Linked DNA regions of Homo sapiens: all the other regions are reported to be linked to region 3. The links are microRNA targets in miRTarBase. Many come from high-throughput screens and were not tested one by one. Region 3 holds a microRNA gene; each other region holds the end of a gene's coding sequence.
Evidence for each region. Region 3 holds the annotated microRNA hsa-miR-488-3p (UUGAAAGGCUAUUUCUUGGUC, at 3,553-3,573, opposite strand). A microRNA usually pairs through its seed, bases 2 to 8, with sites in the 3' UTR of a target mRNA and lowers its output. Matches are read on the target gene's strand: a 7mer-m8 pairs with bases 2 to 8, a 7mer-A1 pairs with bases 2 to 7 and ends in A, and an 8mer does both.

Region 1: miRTarBase lists BAG4 as a target of hsa-miR-488-3p. Seed matches in the 3' UTR shown: 7mer-A1 at 4,063-4,069.
Region 2: miRTarBase lists SLC39A8 as a target of hsa-miR-488-3p. Seed matches in the 3' UTR shown: 7mer-A1 at 3,939-3,945 and 7mer-A1 at 4,263-4,269.

The regions. Positions count from the first base shown.
Region 1 is chr8:38,206,855-38,217,977 of GRCh38, forward strand. BAG4 (BAG cochaperone 4) reads left to right here. Exons shown (of 5, transcript NM_004874.4): 3 at 658-912; 4 at 2,159-2,413; 5 at 3,154-6,447. The coding sequence ends at 3,639. Among named protein-coding and RNA genes, the nearest start is that of DDHD2, 19 kb to the right of the region's middle. RefSeq lists a silencer at 3,857-4,151.
Region 2 is chr4:102,255,756-102,266,878 of GRCh38, reverse strand. It overlaps SLC39A8 (solute carrier family 39 member 8), which reads left to right. Exons shown (of 9, transcript NM_001135146.2): 9 at 3,686-5,213. The coding sequence ends at 3,835. Among named protein-coding and RNA genes, the nearest start is that of SLC39A8, 84 kb to the left of the region's middle.
Region 3 is chr1:177,025,822-177,036,944 of GRCh38, forward strand. It overlaps MIR488 (microRNA 488), which reads right to left and starts at 3,624; the gene lies at 3,542-3,624. It overlaps ASTN1 (astrotactin 1), which reads right to left. Exons shown (of 23, transcript NM_004319.3): 3 at 6,635-7,028; 4 at 4,985-5,131; 5 at 3,813-3,920.

The sequences.
Region 1 (11,123 bases), not on the chromosome of region 3:
ACTGCAGCCTTGACCTCCTGGGCTCAAGCAATCCTCTCACCTCAGCCTCCTGAGTAGCTTGGACTACAGATGTGTGCCATGAGGCCTAGATAATTTTTTTTTTTTTTTTTTTTTTGAGATGAAGTCTTACTCTTGTCCCCCAGGCTGGAGTGCGATGGCACGATCTTGGCTCACTGCAACCTCCGCCTCCTGGGTTCAAGCGATTCTCCTGCGTCAGCCCCCCGAGTAGCTGGGATTACAGGCGCCTGCCACCATGCCCGGTTAATTTTTGTATTTTTAGTAGAGATGGGGTTTCACCATTTTGGCCAGGCTGGTCTAGAACTCCTGACCTCAGGTGACCCACCCGCCTCGGCCTCCCAAAGTGCTAGGATTACAGGCTTGAGCCACTGTGCCTGGCAATGCCTGGCTAATTATTTTATTTTATTTTTGTAGAAACAGGGTCTCACTATGTTGTCCAGGCTGGTCTCAAACTCCTGACCTCAAATGATTCTCCCACCTTGGGCTCCCAAAGTGCTGGGATTACAGGCATGAGCCACTGTGCCTGGCCTGCATTAGTGATTAACATCTTCTCAAAGTTTTCAAGTTTAGGCATTAAGTCAGGGCATTTCAGCTCTTCTACTAATTCATCTTTTTTTCACTCAACTTGGTTTTTTTCAGAGTTTGAATTCTTATACAAATGGAGCGTATGGTCCAACATACCCCCCAGGCCCTGGGGCAAATACTGCCTCATACTCAGGGGCTTATTATGCACCTGGTTATACTCAGACCAGTTACTCCACAGAAGTTCCAAGTACTTACCGTTCATCTGGCAACAGCCCAACTCCAGTCTCTCGTTGGATCTATCCCCAGCAGGACTGTCAGACTGAAGCACCCCCTCTTAGGGGGCAGGTTCCAGGATATCCGCCTTCACAGGTGAGTTGTTTTCTATTGGGAAAAAAATGAATTCAAAGTCTCTGCCTCTTGTAAACAGTGGAAGAGCATCTGTTCATACTAGTGCTGATTTAATAAGACACTTCTAGATTGGGAAGGCTTTTATATTGATGCCTTTCTTATTTGTGGCAGCTATTGCAGTAAATGGACTTTGGCTGAAGGTCATAATCATAAATTTTTATACTGAAAGTAATCTTTAGAGAGTTGCTGCTTGAAAGTTTCCCTATCTTAGCCTTTTTTTTTTTTTTGTGGCGTGATCTTGGCTCACTGCAACCTCTACCTCCTGGGTTCAAGCAATTCTTCTGCCTCAGCCTCCCAAGTAGCTGGGATTACAAGCACGCGCCATCACGCCCAGCTCATTTTTGTATTTTTAGTAGAGATGGGGTTTCACCATGTTGGCCAGGATGGTCTTGATCTCCTGACCTCGTGATCTGCCCCCCTCGGCCTCCCAAAGTGCTGGGATTACAGGCATGAGCCACCGTGCCAGGCAAATCTTAGCCTTTTTTAGCACCCTGTTAGGTTCTTTTTTTTTTTTTTTTTTTTGAGACGGAGTCTCGCTCTGTCGCCCAGGCTGGAGTGCAGTGGCACGGTCTAGGCTCACTGCAAGCTCCACCTCCTGGGTTCATGCCATTCTCCGGCCTCAGCCTCCCGAGTAGCTGGGACTACAAGCGCCCGCCACCGCGCCCAGCTAATTTTTTTTGTATTTTTAGTAGAGATGGGGTTTCACCTTGTTAGCCAGGATGGTCTCGATCTCCTGACCTCGTGATCCGCCCATCTCAGCCTCCCAAAGTGCTGGGATTACAGGCGTGAGCCACCGCGCCTGGCCAGGTTCATGTTTTTTTAATATTCTGTGAATAACTATGTTTATTTCTCTGTTCACTTCAAGAGGAGTTCTAACATGTCTTTATTTGTGCTTCCTTATAGCATATGGGTCCGTTTGTTTATAGTATCTATGGGACAGACTTGGGTTTCATCCATTGAATTTTTAGGCCTTATTCCTTCTGAGTTTTATTGTCATTAAATCTACCCCTGGTATCTTTGGAACCAACTTTTTGAGGCTTGGAGAAATTACTGCAGCTGATTAATTAGATTTACTACAGTTTAGTCCGGTAGCAGCTAATGTATACTCTGTTAAGAAGAGAGGAAGCATCTCAGAATCTGCCTGTAGCAGAATATTTTTATTATAAGTTTTTCACAATGACTGGTATATTTCTTCTTCTCAATCTAGAACCCTGGAATGACCCTGCCCCATTATCCTTATGGAGATGGTAATCGTAGTGTTCCACAATCAGGACCGACTGTACGACCACAAGAAGATGCGTGGGCTTCTCCTGGTGCTTATGGAATGGGTGGCCGTTATCCCTGGCCTTCATCAGCGCCCTCAGCACCACCCGGCAATCTCTACATGACTGAAAGTACTTCACCATGGCCTAGCAGTGGCTCTCCCCAGTCACCCCCTTCACCCCCAGTCCAGCAGCCCAAGGTAGGAGACCTAAATGTTGTTCCTTTAATGTGTGTGTAATTAGGAGAACATAACATGGTTTATATAGTTTCTGTACTGGTTTGTGTTAAATGGGGACTAATTACAAAAAGTTGGTGACTACTTATCTATAGCTTTACCTCAGCTCGGTTTCCTTTTTCTTTTTTTTAATAGACTTTATATTTAGAGAAGATTTAGATTCACATCGTTTTTGTTAAAAGACAGAAAGATACACATTTTCTGTTTGTTGTAATTCTTCTAAACGTTAAATGCAAAGATGCATTTTACTACTTCAAATAATCTATGAACAGAAGACAAAACCAATGTGAAATATCTGTAGCATGAGCTTGTATTTAAACCACAGACTTGAACATTATCACTTGTGGCTGTGTTCCTTTTCAAGACCTTGCTTGAGGTTTTTAACCTTTTAGGGGAAAAACTAATTCTTATTAATTAGGTCACAGGATGGACTATGAGGTGCTCATGGTGATGGACCTGCCACAGGGCAGGTTCCAGCCATTATAACTCAAAAATTCTGTGCCTTTTGTCTGACAGGGCACTCCCTTTTATCTTCTTAGGACTGTGTTTTTTTGCAAATGATTAAGGAGAGGGGTCCAATTTTATTGTTAGGGAATCTTTTCATGTACCTTTCTGGTCAAGTGAAAGATGTGGGCTAACAAATTTGATGTTGATGCATTCCCATTAAAACAGCTCTTTTCCTCTTTTTGCTCTCCCACTCCAAGGATTCTTCATACCCCTATAGCCAATCAGATCAAAGCATGAACCGGCACAACTTTCCTTGCAGTGTCCATCAGTACGAATCCTCGGGGACAGTGAACAATGATGATTCAGATCTTTTGGATTCCCAAGTCCAGTATAGTGCTGAGCCTCAGCTGTATGGTAATGCCACCAGTGACCATCCCAACAATCAAGATCAAAGTAGCAGTCTTCCTGAAGAATGTGTACCTTCAGATGAAAGTACTCCTCCGAGTATTAAAAAAATCATACATGTGCTGGAGAAGGTCCAGTATCTTGAACAAGAAGTAGAAGAATTTGTAGGAAAAAAGACAGACAAAGCATACTGGCTTCTGGAAGAAATGCTAACCAAGGAACTTTTGGAACTGGATTCAGTTGAAACTGGGGGCCAGGACTCTGTACGGCAGGCCAGAAAAGAGGCTGTTTGTAAGATTCAGGCCATACTGGAAAAATTAGAAAAAAAAGGATTATGAAAGGATTTAGAACAAAGTGGAAGCCTGTTACTAACTTGACCAAAGAACACTTGATTTGGTTAATTACCCTCTTTTTGAAATGCCTGTTGATGACAAGAAGCAATACATTCCAGCTTTCCTTTGATTTTATACTTGAAAAACTGGCAAAGGAATGGAAGAATATTTTAGTCATGAGTTGTTTTCAGTTTTCAGACGAATGAATGTAATAGGAAACTATGGAGTTACCAATATTGCCAAGTAGACTCACTCCTTAAAAAATTTATGGATATCTACAAGCTGCTTCTTACCAGCAGGAGGGAAACACACTTCACACAACAGGCTTATCAGAAACCTACCAGATGAAACTGGATATAATCTGAGACAAACAGGATGTGTTTTTTTAAACATCTGGATATCTTGTCACATTTTTGTACATTGTGACTGCTTTCAACATATACTTCATGTGTAATTATAGCTTAGACTTTAGCCTTCTTGGACTTCTGTTTTGTTTTGTTATTTGCAGTTTACAAATATAGTATTATTCTCTACTTCTTGGTACATTTTGTAGTAATATGTTTAATATAATTATTCAAGAGACTATATTGACAGCCAGATAGTATGGCAGTTCTGAAAAAATTTATATCTTTTCACCACTTGAATATACTGCAATGTGTAGTGAGTAAATTGTCTCCCTTTTTCTATAGATCATTAGGTTAGAGTTTTTTTCTTCTTTTTTTTTTTTTTTTTTTTTTACCACTTCTGCTGTTCATGGTAGTAGTGGAAGGTAAATTTGGAAATGGCATTGACATAAAATGAAAATGTTTACGGACACTTTTCTTTTTTGCTTTTTTATTGTATTTGGATAAAGATCCACTTAAAAGTTATCTGTTTTTTCCTGTTTTTTTTTTTTTTCCCCAAAGTGTAGTTATGTTTTCACTATTGCTGCTTCTATAGAGGGCATTGTGATAGAGAGTTACAGATGAAACATTAAATGCCACAGTGAGTAGAAATAATTACTACAAAAAGTAATAAATATGATTACTTGGTAATATCATTCTCCATCTAAAATACTAGTTTCACCTGTGAGCAGATTTCAGCTCAGTTTATAGTTAAAAACAATGAGGGTAAAATGGGATTCATGCTCAGGGAATGAATCAGCCATAGTTAGAGTGGGAAATTATTATTTTCTTCATTTAAAGGTAGATTTTATGTTTATTTCCCTAAATTGCATAAGATAAAATTGTCTGTTTAATAAAAAGACATTTATTACCATTATTAACAGTCATTTTAGAGCCAAATTTAAGAAAAGGATATTGAAAGGGTCTTTATTGGCCTTGTTTGGGTAACTCTATGCTGTTAGATAGAAGAGACTTAGGTAAATAACTTTTTATGTCTGAGGTGAGTACACAATATTGGTTCTTGGAAAAATAGCTGTTTCTTCATAAGATACCCAAGTGATAATTTTTTTTCCCCTAGACTGTCAGGCCTATGAGTAAATACTAAATCTATTAGCTGTCCCCACTCATAAACCAAACCAAACCAATACAAACAGATGAGGAGAGGAAATGTAGTAAAAATACTGGCTGGGTCTTATGATTGGGATGAGTGATTTTATAAGATAATATGGTGATAATTTTATTCTAGGATTTTATTTTTGGCCTAATATAGGAATGTTTAAAAAAGGCTTTTCTATGAAAATTAGAAATTTATACTTGAAATTAAAAGTCTAGAAGGGGGAGGACCTTAAAGCTAAGCTACCAGTAAGACAATGAATAATTCAGAAGAGAACACTATTCTTTTACTGACTGAGTGCCCAAGATGCCAATTTCCATGAAGTCTTGATTTATATATATGTACACATGTTATGCACATACATGTTTGTTTTCTAACAGTTATTTTTTAAGCTTTTGAGATAATTTTAGACTTACAGAAGAGTTGTAAAAGTAGTAGAGTTCTTGTATACTCTGCACCCACCTTGCCCTTATGTTAACATCTTACGTAACAATAGAACATTTGTCAAAATTAAGAAATTAACCTTGATATAATACTAACTAAAGTAGAAAGTTTAAAAAGTAGAGATTTTAGTCTTTTCACTAATGTCCTTTTACTGTTCCAAGACCCAGCCTTGCATTTAGCTATCATGCCTACGTCCTGTCTTCCAGTCTGTGACAGTGTATCATAACAGGGGATACCTGATGTTGTAATGTATTTCTGGTGTTGTTAACCTTGATCACTATGCTAAGGTGGTGTCTGCTAGGATTCGCTACTGTAAACTTACTGTGTTTTCCTTGTAATTATTGAATATTTGCTGGAGATACCCGGAGACTATGCAAATGTCCCGTTTCTGCTTAAACTTTTGCTCATTTTACTATCCATTGGCAGATCTTGCTTGTGGCAGTTACTACTGTGGTGTTCTAATGGTGATTTTCTATTTCTCTCAATCCTTCTACATTTATTATTGGAATTCTTCTGTAAGGAAGAGTTGTCAGTTCTGGATTTATATTTTTAACTATAATAAGATATTCAGGATAAGTATAGATTTAGAACTTAAAGATGTTAAATCATGTTAAAATTATTCCAAATACCAATATCAAAGAAAACTAAGTTGGTAATCTATCTCAGAAAATATATGAACTTAAGAAGGAAAATAGTATTTATGATTTGTAGAATTGGTTCAACTTTTGACTTAATACTGACTTTGGACTGAATTCAAAGTTTTCTTGAAATTTCACATCTGGACTTTTTAAAGTGTCTACATTTATATTACTTTGGGGATCATTTTGTCAAAGTCTTGAATAAAGTTACCCAGTCCTGGCATGATAAACACAACTATGTTTTTTTTTTTTTATAATAACCCTCTGTTGTTCCAAGTATGAATGCCAATGAAACTGTTTAAACAAATAAGCCCTAATGAAGTATACAGGGGTTGGATTATATGTGTCTCCACATGTTGGTGCAGAATTCTTTTAAATGCTTTTAAAAATGGGGTTCTGAAAACAGTTTTTCAGTTGGTTAATGTAAATAATACCATTAAAGCTAGGCAGGTTAAAAAAATTTTGAAGAATGTAGATTAAATAGGCATAAAAAAGTTTTTGGGGGATGGATAGTTGATGGAGCTTTTCTTTTACAACTTTACTTTTTTTTACTTATTTTTTTAAAAAAGTAAGGAGTTTACCTCAATTCGTAGAAGTTACGAGTTTAAAAAGTCAGTTCTATGAAAGGCAGCATTCTCCTGATCCCACCCCCATTTCTCCTTCTCTAAAGGCAACCACTTTCAACTGAGTTTTTCTTTTGTTAATCAAAAAATTTTGTTTTTAGAGACAAGAGTCTTGCTATGCTGGTCTTAAATTCCTGGGCTCAAGTGATCCTTCTGCCTCAGCCTCCTGGGTAGCTGCGACTACAGGCATGGACCACCTCAACCAGCTTCAACTGAGTTTTTATGTTTTTTTTGAGACGGAGTCTTGCTCTGTCGCCCAGGTGGGAGTGCAATGGCGCGATCTCGGCTCACTGCAACCTCCACTTCCCAGGTTCAAGCCATTCTCCTGCCTCAGCCTCCTGAGTAGCTGGGATTGCAGACATGTACCACCACGTCCAGCTAATTTTTGTATTTTTAGTAGAGGCGGGGTTTCACCATGTTGGCCAGGCTGGTCTCGAACTCCTGACCTCAGGTGATCTGCCCACCTTGGCCTCCCAAAGTGCTGGAATTACAGGTGTGAGCCACTGTGCCTGGCCAGGTTTCCAGGTTTCTCTCTCTCTCTCTTTCTCTCTCTCTCTCTCTCTCTCTCTCTCTCTCTCTCTCTATATATATATATATATGTTTTCTTTACTTTTTTTTTTTTTGAGACAGAGTCTTGCTCTGTCACCCAGGATGGAGTGCAGTGGCATGATCTCGGCTCACTACTGCCTGAAATTCCTGGGCCCAAGGGATCCTCCCGCCTCAGCCTCCCCAGTAGCTGGGAGGCATGCATTATGGCACCTGGCTAATTTTGTAATTTTTTGTAGAGATGGAGTCTTGCCATGTTACCCAAGCTAGTCTCAAATGCCTGGCTGGGCTCAAGTGATCCTCCCTCCTTGGCTTCCCAAGTGCTGGGATTACAGATGTGAGCTACCACACCTGTCCTCAATATACTTATTTGGTAGTTTCATTGTACGTTATCCTGACTATGTAAATGCTAAGGAGAGTTTAGCTATATAGTAACCTGATTACTTTTCCTTTCCTAACAACTTGTTTTCCCTGGAATTAATCATCTGTCATATTTGTTTTGTTTGCTTATCTACCTAAGACTGATTTGACCTTCTCTCAGTCGTCTAAGTCTCTCAAGATGCTCAGACAAGGCCCGGCATGGTGGCTAATGCCTGTATGCCCAGCACTTTGGAAGGCCAAGGCGGGAGGATTGCTTGAGCCCAGGAGTTCAAGACCAGCCTGGGCAACATAGTGAGACCTCGTCTCTATTTAAAAAAAAAATTAAAAAATTAAGATAAATACAAAATGATTAAAAATTATTAATATTGGCTGGGCGCGGTGGCTCACACCTGTCATCCTACTGCTTTGAGAGGCTGAGGTGGGTAGACAACTTGAGGTCAGGAGATCCTCCTGGCCAATATGGCAAAACCCCATCTCTACTAAAAATACAAAAATTAGCTGGGTGTGGTGGCGCATGCCTGTAATTCCAGCCACTTGGGAGACTGAGGCAGGAGAATCACTTGAACTCAGGAGGTGGAGGTTGCAGTGAGCTGAGATCGTGCCACTGCACTCCAGCCTGGGCAACAGTGAGATTCCGTCTCAAAAAAAAAAAAATAAATAAATATATATATATAAAACATATAAATATATATTAGAAATATATATTTAAAATATTAAATATACATTAAATATGTAATATATATTTAATATATAATATATATTTAAAATATATATAATATAAATATATATAATATATATATATAAATATTTTATCAATTTCAAACTTCTGAAGAGTCTATCCTGAACCCTTCTGACTGGAAAACTAGTATGTTCCTGGCATAGTACATAGGGTCATGCTGTGGATTCTTTTTGTCTCTTCTTTTGGTTTTCTGTTTTTTGTATCCTATGTCTTTCTCTTTTTGTTTATTCCGTCATTTGGTGGAGCATATTCTCCAGGTGCTTCCTGGAAAAGGGTGCATGGGAAATAATTTATTTTGATCTTGCATATTTGAAAATGTCTGTTCCACCTAGCCAATGGATTGATAGTTTGGCTGGGTATAGAATTCTAGGAAATGATTATCTTAAGGATTTTGAAGGCATTGTTATATTGTCTTGTAGATTCCAGAATTGCTGTTGAGAAGCATATGCCATTCTGATTCAAGATCCTTTGTATAAAACCTGATATTTTTCTCTAGAAGCTTATAGAATTTTTGGGGGGGCCCCATTTGTTCTGAAATTTCCTAAGAATAGCTTTGGTTTAGGTCCATTTTTATCCGTTTTGCTGGGGCCATTTCATTCTGGCAACTCATACCATTAAGTCCTGTGAAATTTTTTGATTTTTTGTTTGTTTGTTAATTTCCCTCTTTCCTCCATCCCAGTCTTCTCTGTTAATACTTTCTAGAATTACTACTGTTTTGACTGTAGGCCTCATAGACTGGTTCTTTAATTTTCTTATGTTTTCTGTTTGTTTGTTTTTTTTTTAATGTTTTGCCTTTTTGTGGTACTTTGTAGGAGATTTATACAACTTTATCACTTTTTATTTTTATTTTCTGTGTGACAGGGTCTCATTCTGTCATCCAGGCTGGAGTTCAGGGGCACAATCTCTGCTCACTGCAACCTCTGCCTTCCTGGTTCAGTTGATCATCCTGCCTCAGCCTCCTGAGTAGCTGGGTTACAGGTGCACACCGTCACAACTGGCTAATTTTTTTTGTATTTTTTTGTAGAGACAGGGTTTTGCTAAGTTGCCCAGGCTGGTTTTGAAATCCTGAGCTCAAGCGATACACCCACTTTGCCTTCCCAAAGTGCTAAGATTACAGGCATGAGCTACCATGCCTGGCGAACTTTTTCTTCTGACTTCTAAAACATTGTGTCTTACATTTCTTCCATCTTTTTTTTTGGTTTTTTTTTTAGAAAGACTGTCACTCGGTCACCCAGGCTGGAGTGCAGTGGTGTGATCTCAGCTCACTGCAACCTCCAACTCCCAGGTTCAAGCAATTCTCCTGCCTTGGACTCCCGAGTAGCTGGGACTATGGGGACCCACCACTACGCTGGCTAATTTTTTGTATTTTTAGTAGAGATGTGGTTTCACCCTGTTTGCTAGGCTGATCTTGAACTCCTGACCTCAAGTGATCCACCCACCTCCACCTCCCAAAGTACTGGGATTATAGGCATAAGCCACCATGCCCAGCCTCTTCTATCATTAAAAAAAAAAAAAAAAATTGGCTGGGCGTGATGGCTCACGCCTGTAATCCCAGCACTTTGGGAGGCCGAGGCGGGAGGATCACAAGGTCAGGAGATCGAGACCATCCTGGCTAACATGGTGAAACCCCATCTCTACTAAAAATACAAAAAATTAGCCAGGTGTGCTGGCAGACACCTGTAGTCCCAGCTACTGGGGAGGCTGAGGCAGGAGAATGATGTGAACCCGGGAGGCGGGCTTGCAGTTGAGCTGAAATCGCACCACTGCACTCCAGCCTGGGCGACAGAGCGAGACTCCATCTCAAAACAAACAACCAAAAAAACAAACTTTTGGCCAGTTGCAGTGGCTCACTCCTGTAATCCCAGCACTTTGGGAGGCCGAGGCGGGTGGATTATGAGGTCAGGGGTTCGAGACCAGCCTGGCCAACATGGTGAAACCCCGTCTCTACTAAAAATATAAAAATTAGCTGGGTATGGTAGCACATGCCTGTAATCCCAGCTACTCAGGCTGAGGCATGAGAATCACTTGAACCCAGGAGGCGGAGGTTGCAGTGAGCTGAGATCGCGCCACTGCACTCCAGCCTGGCGACACAGTGAGAGTCCGTCTCAAAACACACACACACACACACACACCATTTTTTTAGAGACAGGATCTGACTATATTGCCCAGGCTGGTCCTGGTCCTGAATTCCTGACCTCAAGTGATCCTCCTGCCTCAGTCTCCAAAAGTGTTAGGATTACAGACATGAACCACTGCGCCTGGCCCTATCATATTTTTAACTTCCAAGGATATTTTTGTTTGCTGGGTTCCTTTATGAGATTCTGCTTTTGTTTACAGTTGGAGCATCTTGTATCTCTGAGGATATTAATGATGATTTCTTGGTGTTTTCTTCTTTCGAATAATGGATTTCCTCAAAATTGCTTTTTTCTTTTAGTCTTTGTCATTATCACATTATCACGTTAGAGGTATTTCTCAGATATCCGTTTTTTTTGTTTTTTTTTTTTTTTTTTTTTTTGAGATGGAGTTTCACTCTTGTTGCCCAGGCTGGAGTGCAATGGCATGATCTCTGCTCACTGCAACCTCCGCCTTCCGGGTTCAAGAGATTCTCCTGTCTCAGCCTCC
Region 2 (11,123 bases), not on the chromosome of region 3:
ATCCCAGCACTTTGGGAGGCCGAGGCGGGCGGATCACAAGGTCAAGAGATCTAGACCATCCTGGCCAACATGGTGAAACCCTGTCTCTACTGAAACTACAAAAATTAGCCGGGCGTGGTGGCGGGCGCCTGTAATCCCAGCTACTCGGGAGTCTGAGGCAGGAGAATTGCTTGAACCCGGGAGGCAGAGGTTGCTGTGAGCCGAGATTGTGCCACTGTACTCCAGCCTGACGACAGAACGAGACTCCATCTAAAAAAAAAAGAGTGTGCATGTGTGTGTGTAAGAGAGAGAATATCCTGTGCATTTTAAAATAAATCATGGAAATCTTTCTATAAAATGATAATATGGTAGTGTATGAAAATCAAGGACTATTTCTTTTGCATTTGGAACTGGATGTATTACATACATAATTTAATAATTTGAGTTTTTTATTTGCATTCTTACCTCCAAATTATATTTGTCTAGCTCTGTTCGTTGTTCTCTGCAGACCCTCAGAAGAGCAAGGATTTCATCTCTTAGAACCAATGCTACATTTATAACTTTTGTCACAAAATTAATGTCTCATGCTATCTTATAGTCATTTTACTTTCTGATATAAGAATGGAATCTTACTAGAGTTGTTCAGTTTAAAGAAATAATACTAAGAAATAATACTCATCCTGGAGTGAGCAAAATAGGCACAGTTCAAGGGGCTTTTCCATTCATGGGGCTTTTCCTCTAGAAAGAGGGGATCCTTAAATTAAACAACAAAAAATCACACAGATGACTAAATAATTACAAATAATAAAAAATGCTATGAAATAAGAGAGAAAGTAGAATATATGATGAGAGATGATAATAAAGGAATCTAGAATAAACTAGGATTAGCTAGCAAAAGTGTTTTAGCAAGATATAAGGTAAAACGTGAAGGATTTAGTCCACTGAAAAATTAGAGAAATACAAGTTCTGGTACAGGTGATGGTAGATGTGAAGATTTTGCTGGGTAAACTTGAGGTCATGAAAGAATGGGTTGGGTGAAGCATAGAGAGCAGGTAATGGAAAAGGAGAAAGAGAACATAAAATGAGGTAAATTCCATCCCACTGATTGATTCAGTTGGAGAAAAATACTACTTCAGTACTTTTACTCTTGTTGATGCCTGAAAGAACTAGATATTCCTATTAAGCTATCAGTACTAAAACCTTTAAACATCCAAAGTAAATGATCATACCACCCCTCCCAGCATTCTATTACAGGAGCACCTTGTTTTATTGCACATTGCTTTGATGCACTTTGTAAATGCTAGGTTTTTTGCACATTGAAAGTTTTTGGCAACCCTGCCTCAAGCAAATCTGTCAGTGCCATTTTTTGAATAGCATGGGCTTATTTCCTGTCTCTGTCACATTTTGTTAATTTTTAAACGATTTCAAACCTTTTCATTATTATTATAATATCTGTTATAGTGATTTGTGATCAGTGATCTATGATGTTACTATTATGTTTTGGGACGCCATGAACCACATTCGTATAAAATGGTGAACTTAATTGACAAATGTTGTGTGTGTTTTCTCCCTGCACCCCTGATCAGCCATCCTTCCATCTCCCTCTCCTTGGGCCTCCCTATTCCTTGACACCCAACAATGTTGAAATTACACCAATTAATAATCCTACAGTGGCCTCTAAGTGTTCAAGTGAAAGGAAGAGCTGCACATCTATCATATTAAATCAAAGGCCTGAAATGATTAGGCTTAGTGAGGAGGGCATGTTGAAACCCAAGGCAGGCCAAAAGCTAGACTTTGTTTGCCAGATAGCCCAGTTGTGACTGCAAAGAAAGGATTGATGAAGGAAATTAAAAGGGCTACTCCAATGAACACACAAATAATAAGAAAGCAAAACAGCCTTATTGCTGACATGAATAAAATTTACGTGGTATGGATAGAAAGATCAAACCAGCTACAACATTCCGTTAAGCAACAGCCTATTTCAGAGCAAGGAATAACTCTCTTCAATTCTATGATGGCTTACAGAAGTAAAGAAGCTGCAGAAGAAAAACTGGACATTAGCAGAGGTGTATTCATTAGGTTTAAGGAAAGAAGCCATCTGTATGACATAAAAGTGTCAGGTGAAGCAGCAAGTGCTGATGGGAAGCTGCAGAAAGTTATCCAGAAGATCTAACTAAGATCACTGATGAAGGTGACTACACTAAACTAATAGATTTTAAGTGTAGCTGAAACAGCCTTCTGTTAGAAGAACATGCCATCCAGGACTTTCCATACTAGAGAGAAGTCAATGCCTGGTTTCAAATCTTCAAAGGATAGGCTGACTGTCTTACTAGGGACTAATGCAGCTGGTAACTTTAAGTTGAGGTCAGTGATCATTTACCATTCCCCAAATCCTAGGGCCCTTAGGAATTATGTTGAATCCACTCTGTGCTCTAGAAATAGAACAACACAGCCTGGATGATAACACATCTGTTTACAGCATGGTTTAGTGAGTATTTTAAACCCACTGTTAGGACCCACTGCTCAGAAAAATAAAAGAAATTCCTTTCAAACATTACTGCTCATTGACAGTGCATCAAATCACCTAAGAGCTCTTATGGAGATGTACAAGGAGATGAAAGTTTTTGTGCTTGCTAACACAACATACATTCCGCAGTCCATGGATCAGTCCATGGAGTAGTTTTGACTTACAAATCATATCATTTAAGAATAATTTGTAAGTCTCTAGTTGCTGTAGATAGTGATTCCTCTGATGCATCTGGGCAAAGTAAGTTGAAAACTTTCTAGAAAGGACTTATCCTTCTAGATGATATGAAGAACATTTGTGATTTATGGAAGGAGTCAAAATATCCACATTAATTGAAATTGGAAAGAAGCTGATTTCAACCCTCATGGATGACTTTGAGGTGTTCAAGACTTCAGGGAAGGAAGTAACTGCAGAGGTAGTGGAAATGGCAAGATAACTAGAATGAGAAGTGGAGACTGAAGATGGGACTGAATTGCTGCAATCTCGTGATTAAACTAGAATGAATGAGGGGTTGCTTCTTACGGAGGAACAAACAGTGATTTCTTGAGACAGAATCTATTCCTGGTGAACATTGCTGAAATGACAACAAAGGATTTAGAATATTCTATAAACATAGTTCATAAAGCAGGGACAGAGTTTGAGAGGATTGCCTCCACTTTGGAAATAATTTCTACTGTGGGTAAAATGCTGTCAAACAGCATTGCACACTACAGAGAAATCTTTCATGAAAGAAATAAATTGATGTTGCAAATGTCATTGTTGTCTTATTTTAAGAAATTTCCACAGCCACTCCCATCTTTAGCAACCACTACTCTAATCAGTCAGCAGCCATCAAGATGGAATCAAGACTCCACCAGCAAAAAGATTACAACTCACCCAAAGCTCGAATGATTGGTAGCATTTTTTAGCAATAAAGTATTTTTTTAAATTATGGTATATACATTGCCTTTTTAGATATTATGCTATTGCACACTTAATAGTCTACAGTATAATGCAAATATATCTATTATATGCACTGGGAAACCTGGGAATTCATGTAACTTGCTTTATTGAGATGTTTGCTTTATCACACTGGTCTGGAACCAAACCCACACTGTCTCCAAGGTATGCCTCTAAGTGACTGTTTTGTGGTTTGCCACAAGATGGCAACAGTTATCTAACAATATATCTGTCTTCTAGTTTCCAGAGATGAATGATATGCTGAGAGAAAAGGTAACTGGAAGAAAAACCGATTTCACCTTCTTCATGATTCAGAATGCTGGAATGTTAACTGGATTCACAGCCATTCTACTCATTACCTTGTATGCAGGAGAAATCGAATTGGAGTAATAGAAAATGGAAGATGGTGTTGTTAATAAAGGCATTTAATAGATAAAAACATCTCCAAAAAGGATTTTGAAGCTGATCCTATTTAGTTAAAAAGATAATTTTGCTTTCAACTGTAGGTCCAGAAAACTAATTATTGGCATCAGTCTGTGAAATAGTCCATTATTTGTTGTTAAAAATGCTTCAAAAGGTTTTCAGTGTCAGTCTGAGATGCCTGGTATATAGGAGCCTTTGGGAAATACCTATTTTTCAGTATTCCATGCATATTAGATATCACCATGAAGCAAGAGACATGCATTCTATAATCATGTAGACACTCAGACTCAGGGGAAAATACAAGTTATATCCTGAAAGCCTTTAAAACTCTATGGTAGGATCAAAGATTCAAATGGTTTCAGAGAGGTTTTATTTCAATTAATTTGTTCTAGTGCTTTCAAGAGCAAGTACATCAAAATGTAGAAGGTAAAATGTATGCAACACTAATATAAATTATTCCAAGTCTTTAAGGAGCCAAAGAAAAAAAAGATTTCTCACAGCTTTTTGTTCTGTTTTGTATTTCAATTAGGAACTTGCAGTATTATTTTGAAAACCATTCTAAAATAATAGGAGTTAGGAAATAAATAAAGTTTTGCTAGCCCTGCTAAGTTCAGGCTTAGAGGCTTATCGCTAAGTATAAACTTCACCAGATTCCACGAAAAGCTGGATAGCTTTTTTTCTGACTTATGTTGTGGTTGCACCCCTCACAAATGGCAGAACAGTATGTAAAGCTGGTAACACCTCGGTTTCAGTGCACCATGTGTTTGCTTTGTGAAGGTGAAGAATATGTTGGTTTAGAGAAAGAAATTGGATGTAATTTTATGCAATTTACTTTTAAAGACAAACATAACTATTTAGCAGAGAATATTTTAATAAATGCAAAACAACAGCTGGACTGCTGTACATCAAGGACAGATTAACTGGAAAACATATGTTCCTTATGTGTGATCGAGAGCCATTCAGAAAAGACTTCCTTTGTGTTCAGCCTATACTTTTCCATATGGTATACCTTGAAAAAAATTAGCACACCATGGTTATTTTTCTACCTTTTATAAAAGACAGAGCCTGTTTACTCATTTAGAAGATAGAGAAAATTGGTCTAAAATTGAACATCCTAGATTCACACTCCCAAGTCACTTAAGGTGATTTGATGGTGAGGAAAATGATTGACAAAGCCCAACAATGATCTCAGGAATTACATTTTCCAACAGACCAAAAAATGTTTTCATGTAGCAGCAATGCAGATTTGGTGAATATTTAATATATATTTTAGTATGTATTTCACTTTATGACTGACAATTAAAAAATATTGTTTGGCCAAATAGTAAACACCCTTTTGAAACCATGTATTGTGTCATTTGTTATTTAATATTTGTCCTGTTGAGTGACTACCATGTATCTGGTATTATGGGGGAGAGATATAAATAGGAAATCAGTGATGTGCTCAAACTGTAAATCTAACCCCGCCATGGCTTATTTCTATACCAGTTGCTTAGCATGGCCAACCCAAGAGTCGACGATTTTAATAGTCTCTGAATAGTATTATGATGATCTCTCGTTACTTAGTAGGGCCCTACCTAGTAGACTGTTTCGCTTTACCACATCTAAAAGGGTTTCTTTAATGAGGTGCTTAAATTTTTAAAAAGTGAACTAGTTGAGAAGAGCCAAAACAGCACCACGAGTTTACCAGACAATTAACATAGGCATATCAACAGCTGATTACTGATGGCCTGTGCCAGGGGAAAACTTCCAGTCTGTCCTCCATGCTCTGGTTGGCATCATCTTCCTTTAGGTCTCACTTTGGAGACCAGACTTCTGTGCTCATTTAAGGTCCATTACGGTACAAGAGGTTAACCCTATAATAAATAAAGATTCTCCAACACTGATGTTACTACAGCTTCTTTCTCACTGATACTTTGCCTTCCATACAACTGTGGGTGGCAATGTCTGTGTTGGATTGCTTTTCCTTAGCTTCCTTTCTGTGCCAGGTATGCACAAGGCATTCTCTCATGGCCATTTCTCTTCCACATTGGGAATTTCCAGCTTCTGGATGGTCCCAGAATCAGTGAGTTTACTAGTAAGATTTCAGGCAAGCTAAGGCAGCTGGATAAACTGAAGACTCTAAATACCTGTTTCATTAATTCTAAGACATGCATTTCCCCAAATGGTATGCTGTAATCACTGACAGCTGGGTAGCATTGTGGAGGTAGTTATACTTGCCTGAAAATGAAAATCATCTGTTGCAATCTGGTAAGGCTAAGAAAATGCCAGTAGCACTGTGTTTAGGATTTGATGGTGTATAGTAACAGGATTATCTATGTTAGGTTTACTTTCCTTCTTATAAAACAAGTGTGGAAGGAGCAGTGCAGGGTTGGCATGGCAGTCCCATGGTGGCTGGGAACCCAGACTCCTTTAATCCATTAGCTCTGCCATCTTTAACTTGTGACTCCCACCTTCAAGATTGCTTCATGCTCTAAGATGGTTGCTACAGATTCAGCCTTAAGGTCTAAATTCTACATAGAAGGAGGAATGGGTAGAAAGGCAAAAAGTTCAAACTCAGCTCTTCCTCCCTCTTTAAAGAGCCTTTTCAGAAGTAATAGCCAATAATCTCCACTTGTATTCAATGACCAGAATTAGTCACATGGCCATACCAATCTTCAGGAGAAGCTGAGAAACATTGCTTTTAGCTGGATACATTACCAGCAATAAAATCAGAATTCTCTTACTGAAAAGAAGCCCAGACTGGATATCGGCTGTCTCAGGTACAGACAGGCTTGTATCAGTTTAATTCGTAAGCTTATTACTCCAGATGGTTCTTATGCAGCCAGTTTAGGGAACTGCTTTTTGTAGGGATTCTCATGACTTGTTTCAGATCAATCCCTTGTCACTTTAACTATTTTAATTATACTGGCCCATCTGAGCAGTCTTTCCTAATAACCAGTATTTTTCTTTACACACTTGAACTACTTGTCATTATAGTTTCTCTGCCTTAGCCTCCTGTGAGTACTATTTATTTACCTTGAAGAAATCCTATGTTTTTCACAGGATGATCTATATTCTAAGGAAACGGAAACAAAACTCTTTTCTATGGACTTTGATCTTTCTGTTTAAAGCTCTTCTGATTACTGGAGCCACATCCAGAATTATGAAACTAAGTACTATTAACACATACTGGCAAAAGTAAATTTAAAAAACCACTTATTTCTCCCCCTGCCCCATATGGGTTATTACAGCCAGTCAGTGCAAGAAAAGTTGGATCTGACATCCAAATGTGGTAAAGCAGAAACAGTCTGCTAGGTAGGGCCCTACTAAGTAACCAGAGATCATCATAATACTATTCAGGGACTATTAAAATCGTTGACTTTCGGGTTGGCCATGCTAAGCAACTGGTATAGAAATAAGCCATGGCGGGGCTAGATTTACAGTTTGAGCACATCACTGATTTCCTATTTATATCTCTCCCCCATAATACCAGTTTGTTATCTGATTCTTGTAGATAATCAAATGGGCTACTGATGACATCAAATCTCAACTTCATTTACTTTGGATATATACGGTAAGAATAACAAGGAACAATTTTAATGGGTGGGCTTGCATGTTTTAAAGTTTATACAATGGCTTAATTCCTTCTGCAGTGACTGTGCATGTTATTCCCACAACAGTATAGACCAACTGGTAGTAAAACCCCAGTGAGGCAACACGTGGATAATTTATTGCCAAGCTTATGGTCACCAACAGGATGTTTGCTTAGGGGTCATAGGAAAGAAAAATAAAGATGAAAAGTTATGAGTACAGGGGGAAATCTCCTTGGAAGAATTCAAATGGGAAATTCTTCCCTCTCTCAAAAAGCTGAGGAAGTTTATAAAACTTGTTTCAGTCTGTATTTTGTGGCAAGCTCCATTAGCAGACCTCACAGACACTGCGGGTGGTGTCTGTAGAGAGGCTCAGAGGAGGTCTGGCAAGTGCTTTTGCAGGTGAAGTGAGGAGAGTTGTTGCTACCCCAGCTTGACCTTCAGTCGTAGAGTTTGTTGGGATAAAAGGTAGACGAATATTCCCATGGTCTAGTGTGAGCCGAGTGGTGTGTAAGTTCTGGTTTGGAACAATTTAAAATCTTGTGTAAGAGGGGTACTATCTTGAAAATAGAAGAAGGTCAGTACTGAGTGAACTTCTGGAAAACCAAGGACTAAGTCATGTGGGGCAATTGGAGAACTAGAATACATCACTTGGCAGGAACCCCTCTGAAGAATCCCAAAAGTGTCTATAAAAGAAAGGTTAGTCTTAAGCATCTGTCAGACAGACAGCATTAAGCAACATTTTGACAGTATCTGTCAAGTATGAACTTTTTTATCCCCTTTTCTTTCCTTCATCTGAGCACTTAACCCTGGAAGGGCCAAAAGCCAATTAGTGAACAGTGGGGAGTAAGGAAATAAAAGAGAAGGATTCCTTCCCAGAAGTCTTACCTTTGAATACAAATTGAATTACTGATTGATGCATTGGATTGGACATTTTCAATAACTGACTTGAGACTATGTTTGTGTCTTGAAGTAATTGTAGGATTTTATATTCCCTCCAAAGTCCTGTGTGAGAACAGCCATTGTGCCACCCCAAGTTTCATCCAGGGGTAGGAGAAGGGCTAGCCAGTCCTTCACTCCCAAGCAGACAGTGAGGAATAAAATTAAAAGTTGTTTTTAGTTACCCCTGTGAGAACTGCATGTTAATATACTGATTATATCTGCCCTTTAAAAATTAGTACTTACACACACCTGTAGTCCCAGCTACTCGGGAGGCTGAGGCAGGAGAATGGTGTTAATCAGGGAGGCGGAGCTTGCAGTGAGCCGAGATCGCGCCACTGCACTCCAGCCTGGGTGACAAAGCAAGACTCCGTCTCAAAAAAAAAAACAAAAAACAAAAAACACTTACTTACAACAAACCTGTGTAATGGGTTCTATTTTTAATGCTAGGCCAGGCTGCAGCTGAGAAGTTGCAAAGGAACCCCATGCTCAGGGATGCAGCCAGGGAAGAGCATGACAAAAGCCCTCCCACCCACACTGCTGACCTCTTGCAGCAGCTGCAAACAGCAGGAGAGCCCTTTCCTGTTGCAGTATCCCTCCAGCGCCCTCTACTGAGACAGCTCAATATCATGCTCACTGTAAAGGATGGGTGCTAAAGGAATTCTGTTCATTATGACAGAGCATGTATTTAGAGTGAATTTGGAGTTCAGTGTTAGTAAGTTGGTAAGTGGCACAGGGAGACATTACTCCGTGACTAAATGACATCACTCTGTGGTGATGGGACTTCGTGCATTTGCAATGTTGGGGACATAGACTTTTCAACTGTACAGGATGGGGATCCACTCTCCACCCTTCTGTATCCTGCTTTTTGCCTCCAGAGACTGACCCACATGGACCTCAGTGGGTATAGCCAAATGGAGAACTTCGACAAGAGACTGGAGGAAGTGAAGAGAGGAAGGATAGAGTATCAATTTCCTTGACTATCCTCCTACTGGGTATCCTTGGGCTGCCTGTTTTGCCCAAGAAGGCCTTCTCTACAGAAAAGCTTCTTACAATATCTGTGGCTAAGGCCCAGCTTGTTTTCCTTATTTCCAATTTATCAATAGCTGGCACTTCTGTAAATAGATAGAATTCAAAGAAATTACTAGAAAAATGAAATACAATTAAAAATAAATAAATAAATTAGCTGGGGGTGGTGGCGGACACCTGTAATCCCAGTTATTCAGGAGGCTGAGGCAGGAGAATTGAACCCGGGAGGCAGAGGTTGCAGTGAGCCGAGATAATGCCACTGCACTCTAGCATGGGTAACAGAGCAAGACTCCATCTTGGAAAAAAAAAAAAAGACATAGAAAATCCAACCCCATTTTTATTATTAGATAAACCTCATTTTTTATTAGACACAATTATTCTTTGGGATTACTGTTGAAGTTTATAAATGCTTATTCTCAATTTCCGTACCTAGTTCATCTAAAAAACTGTTGCTGGGCCAGCACCTGCCTGTAGATTCCCCTCCTTTGGTTTTGGTGCCCACTATCTCTCTGTCCCTTTGGCCTAGGGGTAGTAACAGCTCTACTGTCTTCAGCCCTGCGTTCATGTAGCATCACCTGTGGTTTCCCTGCACCCCACTTGCATGTTTGTAATCAGTCCCTTTGTAAATTAATGGACCTGCCTCACCTTACCCTCATTTGAGCATGGCAGTTCTTTGTTTCCCCTGTGGCTGTGATTATCAGCAGTAAACGTCTTATCCTGGAAGAGGAGGTGACTGTGTGAATTTGGCAGGAGAAGGAATACACAACAAGTGCGTATATGGGAGTGAAGTTGCTGCTCACTGAAAGCAAGGAGAAAATTTATGGGGATGAAAGATGATAAGCCATTATCATTAAACATTTTAGGGTAACAAGATGGCATTAGGTTAGATTAATTTGTATGATTAACTATGCATACAGAGAAAAATATCTAGGATGTTTTGAGAGACTAGTTATAAGTGGACTTATCACATTTCTGGCAGATAAGAATCTTTTGACTAGATAAAAGACTGTAACCAACTGTCCAACAACACGTCCTTAAGCATGAATCATCACGTATTTTTAAATAAAGACATAGATTTCTAGATAGGGAAGAATGAATATATTTTTATGATTGTTTATTGAACAGTTTATGCCTTATGGGAATCCTTCTCGTGTAGATGTATCTATAGGTCACATTCCCTCACTTAAAGCATACTATGAAGTGCTACGTGGAATATCTGAGTGAGAACACCGGGACTGCTGCTTGTGACTGTATTGCTGAGACGTTCCACCCATTCACAGCAATGCTTATAAATAGACAATGTTTTTTCTTTGGGAGTCATTGTATGTGCTAACCTTAATGGTGTTACTCTAATAATTATGTACGAGCTTGTTAATGAACTGGGAAACATTGATTTTAGAAGCTTAGAAACTGTGGAGGAAGGTGCTTCATATGGATCTTTCTACTTTTTGTATCTTTTGTGTTTCCATGAAAAAATCTTTTAATTTGTGAAAAGTAAGCCTCAGAATTCATGTCTAAGCATTTCGTAGAAGGATGCACGTGAGAAAAAGCACCTGCGCTGTCATAGCGATCCTTTGGTGTTTTAAGATGAAAAAGTTCAAAGCATTTTAGAATAGTCATAAAGATGACATTGTATAAGTTAGGAGCTGGGTTGTCCTGTCACTTTGTGGTGACAAAACTGGTGAAAGTGGTATTAAAATCATTGCTGGATATGT
Region 3 (11,123 bases):
ATTGTGTGTCAGGCTCCAGTGCTCAGGGTTTGATGTGGCTCGCATCATTGACTAGTGTCCCCAGTCTTAGGAGGCAGCTCCCCTGGAGGAATAGAGGGTTAGAGAGGCTGGAGAGCATGCCTAGTCCCAGGAAACTACTAAGGTGTGGAGCCAGATAAAAATGCAGATCCAGGTGAGGTTTCAGGACACAGGAACAATGCACTACTCAGTCTTTGGGCCCAGTGGTGCCTTTGGAACTGATGTCCTCAGGAACACAGGGATGAGTTTTTGGTTTATGGATATACTTGTCCTTTAGGGGAGCAGTTTCCTCTGGGTGCATGTGTTGGCAGTAGCTGGAAAGGAGAGACTTGAGGGCAGAAGGTAGTCTCTGGGTCCTCTGTCCTTGATAGATGGAAATATTCTGTGCATGTTACTATCCTTTCATAATACAGTCTATTTTCCTACGCTTACAGGTTTCCAGCCCAGCCCAGGCCTCAGATGCAGATCCACCTTCTCTCAAAACCTCACTACCTCCTCTCACCACCTTCTCTCAAACCCTGCTCCTCCAACTACTTCCATTGCCCAGCCAATGGCACTGCCACACATTTGGTTGCTCAAATTTAAAAACTCCATTATATCCAACTCTTTTCTCTTGCTTACAAGCCACACCCCCACCCTGCCCTCACCAATGCCATTAAATCTTTGTCTCTTTAGGGTATGTTCCCAGCAGTGGGATTGCTGGGTCATATGGCAGCTGTATTTTTAGTCTTCTGAGGGACTTCCAGACTGTTCTTCATAGTGGTTGTACCAATTTACATTCCCACCGCAGTGTACAAGGGTTCCCTTTTCTCCACATCCTCACCAGTGTTTGTGATTGCCTGTCTTTGGATAAAAGCCATTTTAACTGGGGTTAGATGATATCTCATTGTAGTTTTGATTTGCGTTTCTCTCATTTTGTGTCCAAAACTTATCTGGCCTCCATTCTTTCCATCCCTCCCTACCCATATCATCTTATATCTAAACTGAAGCAGAAGCCATCCACCTGTTCCCCTGCCTCAAGCTCACCCTGCTGTCACCTATCCTGCATGTTGTCCCTGGGAGGATCCTTCATGGAGCAGAGCAGACCAGGATGTTGCTCTTTTGTCAGGTCCAAGGCCCTTGGAATCAAGCTCATGTACTTTCTGGCTTCTGCTGATCTTCTAACATTATTTCCTAAGAAAACCACAAACCTGCACCCTAAGCTCTATTCTAGTAAACATTTTACTGCTCCCTGACAAGACCATCATAGTTTATGTCTCAGTGACTTTGCACAGATTATTTCCTCCTCCACAGAAGGCCATTTTGTCACCTTGTCAGCCTGGTATACACCTACTCTTCAAGTCTCAGCTCAAACAACATCTCCCTGTAAACACTTCCCTGAAACCTCCAAGAACAGATTCTCACTGATTCCTTGGTGTTCTAGCCCTTGGTGCTATAAGGTGTGATAAGAGCTGTTAGAGCTCTTATCACATAGAATCATCACTGTTTACAGGCAATTGCCACTGCTCTCATGTGATTTCAATGACTTGCTACGGATATTCCTGACTCTATGGTCTTTCTGCATCATCGACCCATAATCCAGCATCTCTACCTGGTTTCAGAACCTCCAATGGTTCCTTACACCCCACTGAGGCAAGCAGAAACTCAGTCACATGGCATGTGCATGGTCCTTTGTTAGCCATTTTCCAGCCTCATCCTTACCATCTCGTGTGCGTATATATTTATAACTTGATGACAGCTGCCATATTGAACGACTTTTACTTCCTTTAAAACACCATGTTCTTTTGTCCCTTCAAGGCTTTTTATGTGCCATTTTCCTTTACTGAAATGCCCTTATCCTAGACTTCTTCTCCTCTTTTGAGAAACCCAGTACAGTGTGTGTGTGTGTGTGTGTGTGTGTGTGTGTGTGTGTGTGTGTGTGTGTATGTGTATATATACATATATATAAAACCTAGTTCTAATTACTTTCTCCTTTTTTGCCTCCCATTGCTTTCAGGTAGGATTAACTGTCCTCTCTTCTGAGTACTCTCTTCACTTTATTTATATTATTAAATTAAGCCTTATCACTGGGCCATATTTTCATGTTTCTACCACCTATCACAAACCTGACCCACAGCAGGTGGGTTATAAAATGTTTTTGCTGCACTGATGGATATATCCAATCCAATTCAACAAACACTTACAAGCATCTGTTACAGGAAAAATCCTTCACTAGGCACTTTGGAAAAATAAATTAGGCATTCCCCACCCCTAAGAAGCTTACAGTCTGGTTAATAGCGTAAAAAGTTGATGCATTAGGAGACCTTGGTATTTAAAAGGAACAGTTTCATGCTGTCGAGAAACTAATTCATTACCATGGATTTTTCTGAAACAAGACTTTATTAAAGCAGGACACACCCTGCTTTGATTAGGCCTGGATTAGCTGGGCCTAGGTTGGGTATCCACTGTCTAAAATTTGTAATAAGTATCAAGGGAGATTGGGAGACCCTAATCCACATTCTCGCCTCACAGAACCTGGCCATTCAATATTAGAATACCCAGAGCCACAATGATCTCTTGAGAAAAATGATGGAAAAACTTTTATTATACTGATAGTAGTTAAGCCTATAGAAACTGGAATTTATAATCAAAAGGGCTTCTTCAAATCTCTGGGAAGAACACCTGTTATGAAGGGAATTCAAGTGGAGGTACGAGAGAATAAAAATGTATATGTCTTTCAGGAGACACTGGTTGACTATTGGTTGAGGAAATTGTTATGGAATGTATTACAAGGAGATGCCACTCAAATATCCTCTACTGTATCTTACAGGGACGCTGCCTAAAATTCTTTAAGATGGGGCACTGTATAAATATGGGGCTGCATGATGGAGAGTTCTAACAGCAACAATAGGGATTTCATAGTGCTTTAGCAATCTCCAAAAAGGCACATTTTAATATAATTTAATCCTGATAAAGCTCTATGTTCTACGCACAAGGTATTGTTAACTCATTTGACATGTGAGTAAACTGAAGGTCAGAGAACTTGTTGTTCTTATCCAGTACCACACAGCAAATAACTGGTAAAGCTGACCGGCGCTTGTGCTCCGAACTCCGCTGGTGTGGTGGTGATACAAGTGAAGTCAGAGGCAGTGGGAGCTGTGGCCGGAATAGCCACAGTTGAAGCCACTGATCATGACAGTGAAGTGGCACACAGTGGCTGCGTGGAAGGACAGCTCTGTCCACGTGGAGGAGAATGGATTAGCCACCTTAACCCTGCCAGGGGAAAGGAAGGAACTGGGAGGCTCGGGGTCCTGTGATTCTACCAGGCAGGGGCTTAAAGGTCAAAGACAATTACACAGATTTTCAGGCCATAGATCATTCCTCAACTACACTGCCCCCAATCCTTGCCTAGCTCAAACCCAAGGCCAATGTGGTAGAGGAAGCAGGGGTACATATAGTATCCATCTTTTCACATACAACACACTTTATTAACTTTGTTTGTCTGAACAGCAAAATATGACTCCTGAGTCTTCCAGAAGAAATTGAGAGTCATCTGACCAAGAAATAGCCTTTCAAACAATTTGGAAACTTGTTTGAGAGTGCCATTATCTGGGAGAGATGATTCTCTGAAATTTTCCACTCTAGGCTCTTCTTTCTTCCTTAGGAGGAAACACCAGTTGTGGTCCAAAAATTCTTCTTGCAGAAACTGGTTTTGTTCCATAGAGCCCACAACCCAACCCAACACCTCTTCGCCTTCCCCCGCCTCCCTCACTCCCAGATCCTTTACCACCTTCTGCCACCTCTATCATTCCTACCTCTACTACGCCTCCTGCTCCTTGAAGGATCCGTGTAAAAGGTCAGCTGGGGGTCGTTTTCTGCCTCTGTGCCAGAATCCCCTTCAGGGTTCAAGAAGGCGGAACCAGCTGTAATGAAAGCAGCATGGTCAAGAAAGCGTTTTCAGTTCTGGTTTCATGACACCAAACCTTTGGGCAAGTTCAATGGGAAAATCAACAAAAATGAAAGTAAGCTGACTGATAATCTGGGAGAAATAGCCAAGGGGGTTGGGGCTTCCTCATACACGGATATGTTGGAGAAGTAGACCATTGGGACAGCAATCACTGGAGCTCTACCCTGCCCCACCCACTTCCCTCTGACTAGGGCCATTTCTGGCACCTATCTGCCAGAGAGGACCTCCAGGGAAAGTGGGTGGAATAGGAAGAAAGGGAAATTTCCCTCATTACAGGTTATGATTCTGTTAATATGAGACTATCTAAGAGGTATAGGAAATTACATCTTTGTGTTTTTTCTGGCTCTAGAATTATATATATTTAATACAAAAAAGACAGAATAGAATAAAGGAAATGCACAAAACTATGTAAAGGGAACAATTCTAATGCCCTCTAAATCCTTTAAATCAGAGATAAACTCTGCTAACATTTCATGTGTATACTCTCTGGCTTTTACTGACACAGAAACAGGTAAAGGTTTTTTAATCTCTCTTTAAAAATGACATTATGCTGTATCTTCTATTTTATAACTTCATTTTTTTTCCCATTTAATAGATGGGTGGGCAACTTTCCATATTAACAAATATAGATCTATATTGTTTCAAATGGCTGCATGGTAAGTGCTGGACAGCAGACAGATGTGCTAGGTAGTTAACCAATTCCCTGTTGATGGACATTTAAGCTATTTCCAATTTTTCACTTGTTTAAACAATGCTGTGATGAACGGCCTTTTACACACTTCTTTGCACACTTGTCCAATTATTTCCTAAGAATAGACTCTTGTTGGTGAAATTACTTGGTCAAAAGGTTTGCACATTTACATTTTTTTGGTAAGTAGCATTTAACTGGCCTCCAGAAAGGCTGTGCCAGGGCATACCCTCTCCAGCCACGCATGAGAGAATGGGTAGAAGATATTAATGGCCCTGCCTCTACCAATATGAAGGAATCCACCCACGAGCCCTAATGTCAGACATGCATACCTCTTGCTTTGTTGTTGATCCGCTTTCTCTGGCTGCTGGAGGTGTGAGAGAGAAGGGTGGCTTGCTGGTGGTTGGAGTCCACAGGGCTAGTGGCTATAATATTATCTTTATACTTGTTCATCAGTGACAGCTTGGCATTGTCACTTCCTGTATAAGGAAAAGACGAGGCAAAAACTTTAAGAGAAAAGACCAAAAGAAAGGGAGAAGAAGGAAATCTGCATAAACCAAGAAGATAAGGTCTCACAGAATTGAAATAAGACACCAGCAAACTGAGAGACTGGCTGCAAGAAACTGAAATACTCCTTTTTTATTTCTGAGGGACTGCAAAGTTATGGGAGAAGCAGTGAAGTCAGGGAACTACAACTGAAAATCCAATTCAACTATTATTATATTATGTATTATAATATTCTGTATTGATAAGGTCAGCACTTGTAACCCTTTGGCTAAATACAGACTGCAGATTTCTTTATTTTTGGTCAGCACAGAGTTTTAAAAGAATTTGAATTTGTGTGCATTCAGGCAGAACATGCCCCTTCTCTTTCATCACAGTCTGCGCCATTCTGTATTGTCTGACCTCTTCTCTGCTTCAAATATCTGTGTTATCTGTTGGCCTCCTAAAGGCATTTGAGTTGATAATAACCCCTGAGTACCATATGTCTACTTTGTGGGCTTAGCACTACACCAGGTGTTATGGTCAATATGAAGAGATGTTGATGATATGTCCCCCATATTCTCAAGGAATTTTCAGGCTTTAAATCTCATTAGAAATTGGCTCTTCATGTAGAATGTCTTGTAGAGAACAAGCAGAATAAAAACCTCTATGTGATTCCACTTTTTCAAGCCCCACTGAAAGTCTATATATAGTAAGCAACATTCAGCATCAAACATGTCTTCCTCAAAGATAATTGGGCAGTTCTTTGAAGGATCACTGTCAAGGGTTTATCTATGGAGATTTGCTGATTCATAGAAGTTTTAAAGAGAAATAGGCAGATTACTGTAAAGGAAGAGTGCAGTCTTTCTCTCTCTGCAGTTTTTGACCCTAATCTTGTTCATCTGGATTAGTTCTTCCAGTCAGTGTCTCCATAGATACACAATGCATCTGGGGTCTGATACCATGATTGCAATCCTTCATTTTCTTTGAAGAAGTGCATCCCTTGTAGAGAGCACAGAGGCATGAGCAAGATAAACATAAAGAAAACACCCCAGGCCCAATTCTCAGGAGTCATAGGAAAAAGCAGATACCACTGTCCCCTCCGCTTCAATGGAGAATTAAATTGCCTAAGCAAGTATAAAATATACAAGAAGTCATATACACATGTTCATTTTTCTTGCTATCTCATTTCCCAGAGGGTTGCTCATTACATACTAAAATGGCTCTAACTCACTCCTCTGTTGAACGTTAAAGTATGTTGCTTCCAGTGCCTGGTGGAAGTGAAAGAAGATCCAATTTACACGGTTCTTCTGGTTTTCTAGATTAGAAAACAGCTCCCATCATCTCAGGAAACAGGTTATTCTTGCCTATCTAGGGAAGGGCACTGCCACATCACACTATGTAGGACAACCAGCTGTTGTCACACAGCTGTTCCTACCCACTCCCCAGCTCCTTGAGATGAAGGACCAAACAGCCCCTTGCCTTTCTCCCATCCCCACCTGGTGTGAGGTCCATCCCCGACTTTTCATTGCAGCCCTGCAGGGAGTCGAGGGTGCGCGTGACCTGGCTGGCAAAGTCCTCCCCTCCGTTCATGCACTCCCTCTGCAGATGGTGGCGCAGATCAGTGATGTCATACTCATAGCCGTCCAGGATAGGTGTCTCCCGGATGCTCAGGGTGCCACTGGAGTTGTGGCCCTGCACGCGGGCATTGCGCAGGCTCTCCCGTCCGTGCCCGCCGATCAGCACAGAAGGAATGTAGTGAATCTCATTGGCTGCCTCAGCACTGGCACTCTTCTGGGGCTGCGGGACCCGGCGGCGTTTGCACCAGCGCCGGCGAGTATACAGGATCATCACCAGGCACAAGATGGACAGCAGCAGAGCGATCATGCCACCCTAGGAAGAGAGGACCACAGATGGATGTGGGAAGATGGGTAGGCTCTTCCCACAAAGAGTCACTGCTCCTTCTGCTACCACCATTCATCACTTATTTATGCATTCATTCATTCAGCTGTATTAAGCATTTACAGCAAGCATCATTCAGCAGCAAAGGGAAATTCTACTGTGACTGGTATTTAGGGTGAGAGAAAAATGGAGCTGGGATGACCAGTGCATCATTTCAAGTGATCCAGTTGCTTCGGGCTTAGCAAACAATTTGAAGAAACAAGTCTGTGTGTGTGTGTGTGTGTGTGTGTGTGTGTGTGCGTGATTTCAGCTGCAAAAACAGGGGAGAGCTTTTATGTATTAAGTTAAATCTGCCACACATAACGCTGGTTTCAGGACTTTATTTTTTTTAGCAATATGGGGTGACATCTGGTTTCTTCCTGTCTCACGTCTAAACATCAATCATAGATTCTAACAGTGGTTCCACCAATTATCAGTGGGTCCTATAAATTCTAAACCTCGGATACGTCATCTGTATAATGGAGAAGACACCACTTAACCACCCAGGGTGGTTGTAAGAATTAGGTTAGCTAACTATGTAAAGTGCCTAGCATAATATATCTCACACAATCAAAGCTGTTCTCAGCATAACCTTAAATGTCTCCATCTGAATAACTGGCCCAGCAGGAAAAACCATTGACAAATCTGAATAGAAATTTACATCCATCAGGAATTTACCACCAAGTGTGGGGAGGAATCTCATCATCTGAACATGACTTTTGGGTCACAGCTTTCCCTTAACCACACAGTCCTGAGTGATGTTCCGTCTTCTTACTAAAGCTCAGGGGAAGGGATTGAAACCCAAGTCCTGGAGTCAGGCTGGTGGAGGAGTTACCTTCTGGTGCTCAAAGGCCAACACCTCGAAGGTCATTCCTTACAAATCAGGACACCACTCTGTCGACTGCCAGAGGTGAGGATGCAGAACTCAGTGAGACTGAACACATGGCCTTGACATCACCGGGGCAGCATTTAGAGGGACAGCCTTTAAGCTTGGTGCTGCATGGCACTCGGTGGGCATAAATCTTCCCGTGCACAATCTCTATTCACTCCCTTTATTTTGGTCAATATCTTTCCAAACCTATTTCATTAGGCCAGCATGTGCCAAATGGTTCTTCTCTCAACCTTAGGCTTCAATCATACCTCCCTATCAAATAAGCTAGAGATAAAAATCCGCTACTAATTCCCAGAGGGCCCACCCACATAAAGCTAGGTCAAGAGTATGCCTCCAAATACATTAAAGGGGGCTTTTCCAGTCTCATAATAATTATACCTTGGATTTATAAAATTTCTTTCCCTGAAAATCTTCCTATTTATCCTCCCCCTCTCACCATCGCTGTGAGCAAAGGAACACACACACACACACACACACACACACACACACACACACTGCCACTTTCAAGCAGGCAGCACAGAGGAGCAGAGACACGAGGCAACAGAGTCAGCTGCCAAGTGACAGCCTATATCATGTGGCTTGTTGGGGACAGATGTATGCTGACCTCCTGGTTTTCAATTATTTCTTTTTTTGCAGAACCCTTTCTCCTGGTGCAAGCTCTTATGCAAGTATAGAGAAAGAATAAACATGCTCAGGTTCCATTATGGGTATGAGTCCAAAGCCAAGTATTCTAGGTCCTTGCTAACTGCCACCTCCACTCCCATCCATCCTGGCAGCCCTGCAGACACACACACAGAGCTCCTGGGACCCCCCAGAACACTGCCTAGAAGACACAGTGCCTCCACAGTGCATGACTAAGCCCTGTACCACTCATTGACAGCGAGTATTTGTGTCCAACCTGACATTTTTTTTTAGCAGAACCTGTATCTCAGAGTCAGTGCTATCTTTTCCTTCACCCCAAATTGAAACTGCAACAATAGGTAATTAAGCCACACAGAAGGAATAACTTCCCAACTGAGAGAAGTTGTCAGACATTGAATTAAGCTAGTGAAAACGAGAGGTAATTTTATTCCCTAAGGAGCTGTAAGAGTAGCGTAAGCATCAATCTCTAAGGAATGGCTTAAACACTATGTTTTTTGCTCATGTAGGGTTTTTTAGGAGCTCCTTCCACTGTTCCTCTCTAATTCTCCTTTCAGATGATCACAACAGGGTTATGATGAGGTCTGAGGCATAGACTCATTCCCTATATTATGCAGTAATAAAACAAGATTAGCTGTCCATTATCATGCTTTTACCATGTACCAGATACTTGTTCAAAAGGTTCCTCACTTTTAACTCAATTCCCCATTTTACATTTGAAAAAGATGAGGCGCAGAGGTTAAATAACTTGCCCAACGTCACACAGCAAATGAGGAGTGGGACTGGAATGAGACCACAACTCTTATTTCACAGCCTATATTCTTAAGCACTAGCCTGCAGTCACCCAGAATGAGCATTGCTCACTGGAGAGACATCTACACCCTGGCATCTATCTTGCACAACATAAGAGGACAGAATAGGAGAGTATGGATGAATACATCCAGACCCATTGTCAGTTCTGGAAGAAAAAAAGAGTAACTATTCAAATACTCAAATTTCAAATATTCAAAATGCACATCTAGCTGACAGTGGGTCAAAGGAGGAGCTATCATAAACAAACGACCTTTAGTAAGCACCTACTAAGCATCCAAATCCAAGATTAGTTGGTAGTAAAAAGACGATACTCACATTTCAAGTTATCTGTGTTTAAACAGGACTATTTGTGTCACTACATGCCTGAGAGATACCATTAGGCCTTCAACTGAGCTGAATTTAGATGAGAAATGTGTACTTTCTTTCAACTTAGGGACCCATTGCATATCTATCTCTAGGTTCAGCCCCTTCCTTTTCTGATGAAAAAACCAAGGCTCAGAGAAACTACAGAACTAGACAGTGCAGAACTGGCTCTAGTCCCAGATCTTCCTTCACTGCTCTTCTCACAGGCCATTTTGGTAAGTTCATCCAAAATTCTCTTAACCATGTGTGGAGCCTAGACACTCAATTAAGAATATTTTATGTTCATTTTTCTTAAAAACATAACTTATAGGGAGCTAGAACAGAAGATTTGTTTTGCTAAGCCAGTATATTTAGCTTCTCTAATTTTGCTTTAGTAAAAAACGCTTCCTCTGCTTAGAGTCAGTGACTCTGGATGGGATGACCTCAGCTTTCTTTTTTTTTTTTTTTTTTTTTTTTTTGAGATGGAGTTTTGCTCTTGTTGCCCAGACTGGAGTGGAGTGCAATGGCACGATCTTGGCTCACTGCAACCTCCACCTCCCAGGTTCAAGCAATTCTCCTGCCTCAGCCTCCTGAGTAGCTGGGATTACAGGCATGCACCACCACGCCCGGCTAATTTTGTATTTTTAGTAGAGACGGGGTTTCTCCATGTTGAGGCTGGTCTCAAACTCCTGACCTCAGGTGATCCACCCGCCTCAGCCTCCCAAAGTGCTGGGATTACAGGTGTGAGCCACCGTGCCCGGCCGACCTCAGCTTTCTAATAATCAGTTACCAGGAATAAGCTTCAGCCAATAGGTAAAACTCAGCACAAGCATTTGAAAAAGGATTCTCAGGTACTCAAGTTGTGGTATGGGTTCTCTGCTTCTGTAACTCAAATTGGTGACAGATGTCAAAATACTTTGCAATGGCTTACTAATTGTGGACTATTACATAAATAATAATATACTGTAATGTGATGTGACATTAATATGTGACATTATTTAATAATATTTTGTAATAATTATTTGTAAAATCACTACACATAAATTTCTCTGAAATGCTCTACCTGCTTGAGCAGGTAGCACGTAGGAAGAAAATATAGGCCCACCACTACACTAGGAAAAGGCAGGGGTCTAGCCACTTTGGTAACTGTCCTTCTACAGTGAGGACTTGGCTCACATTCAGTTACTGTTACATTTTTCAATAAACCATAGGTCTTGGATAATTTCTTTCTTTTTTTTCTTTTTTTCTTTTTTTGAGACAGGGTCTCACTCTGTCACCCAGGCTGGAGTGCAGAGGTGTGATCTTGGCCCACTGCAACCTCCATCTCCCATGTTCAAGTGATTCTCTCACCTCAACCTCCC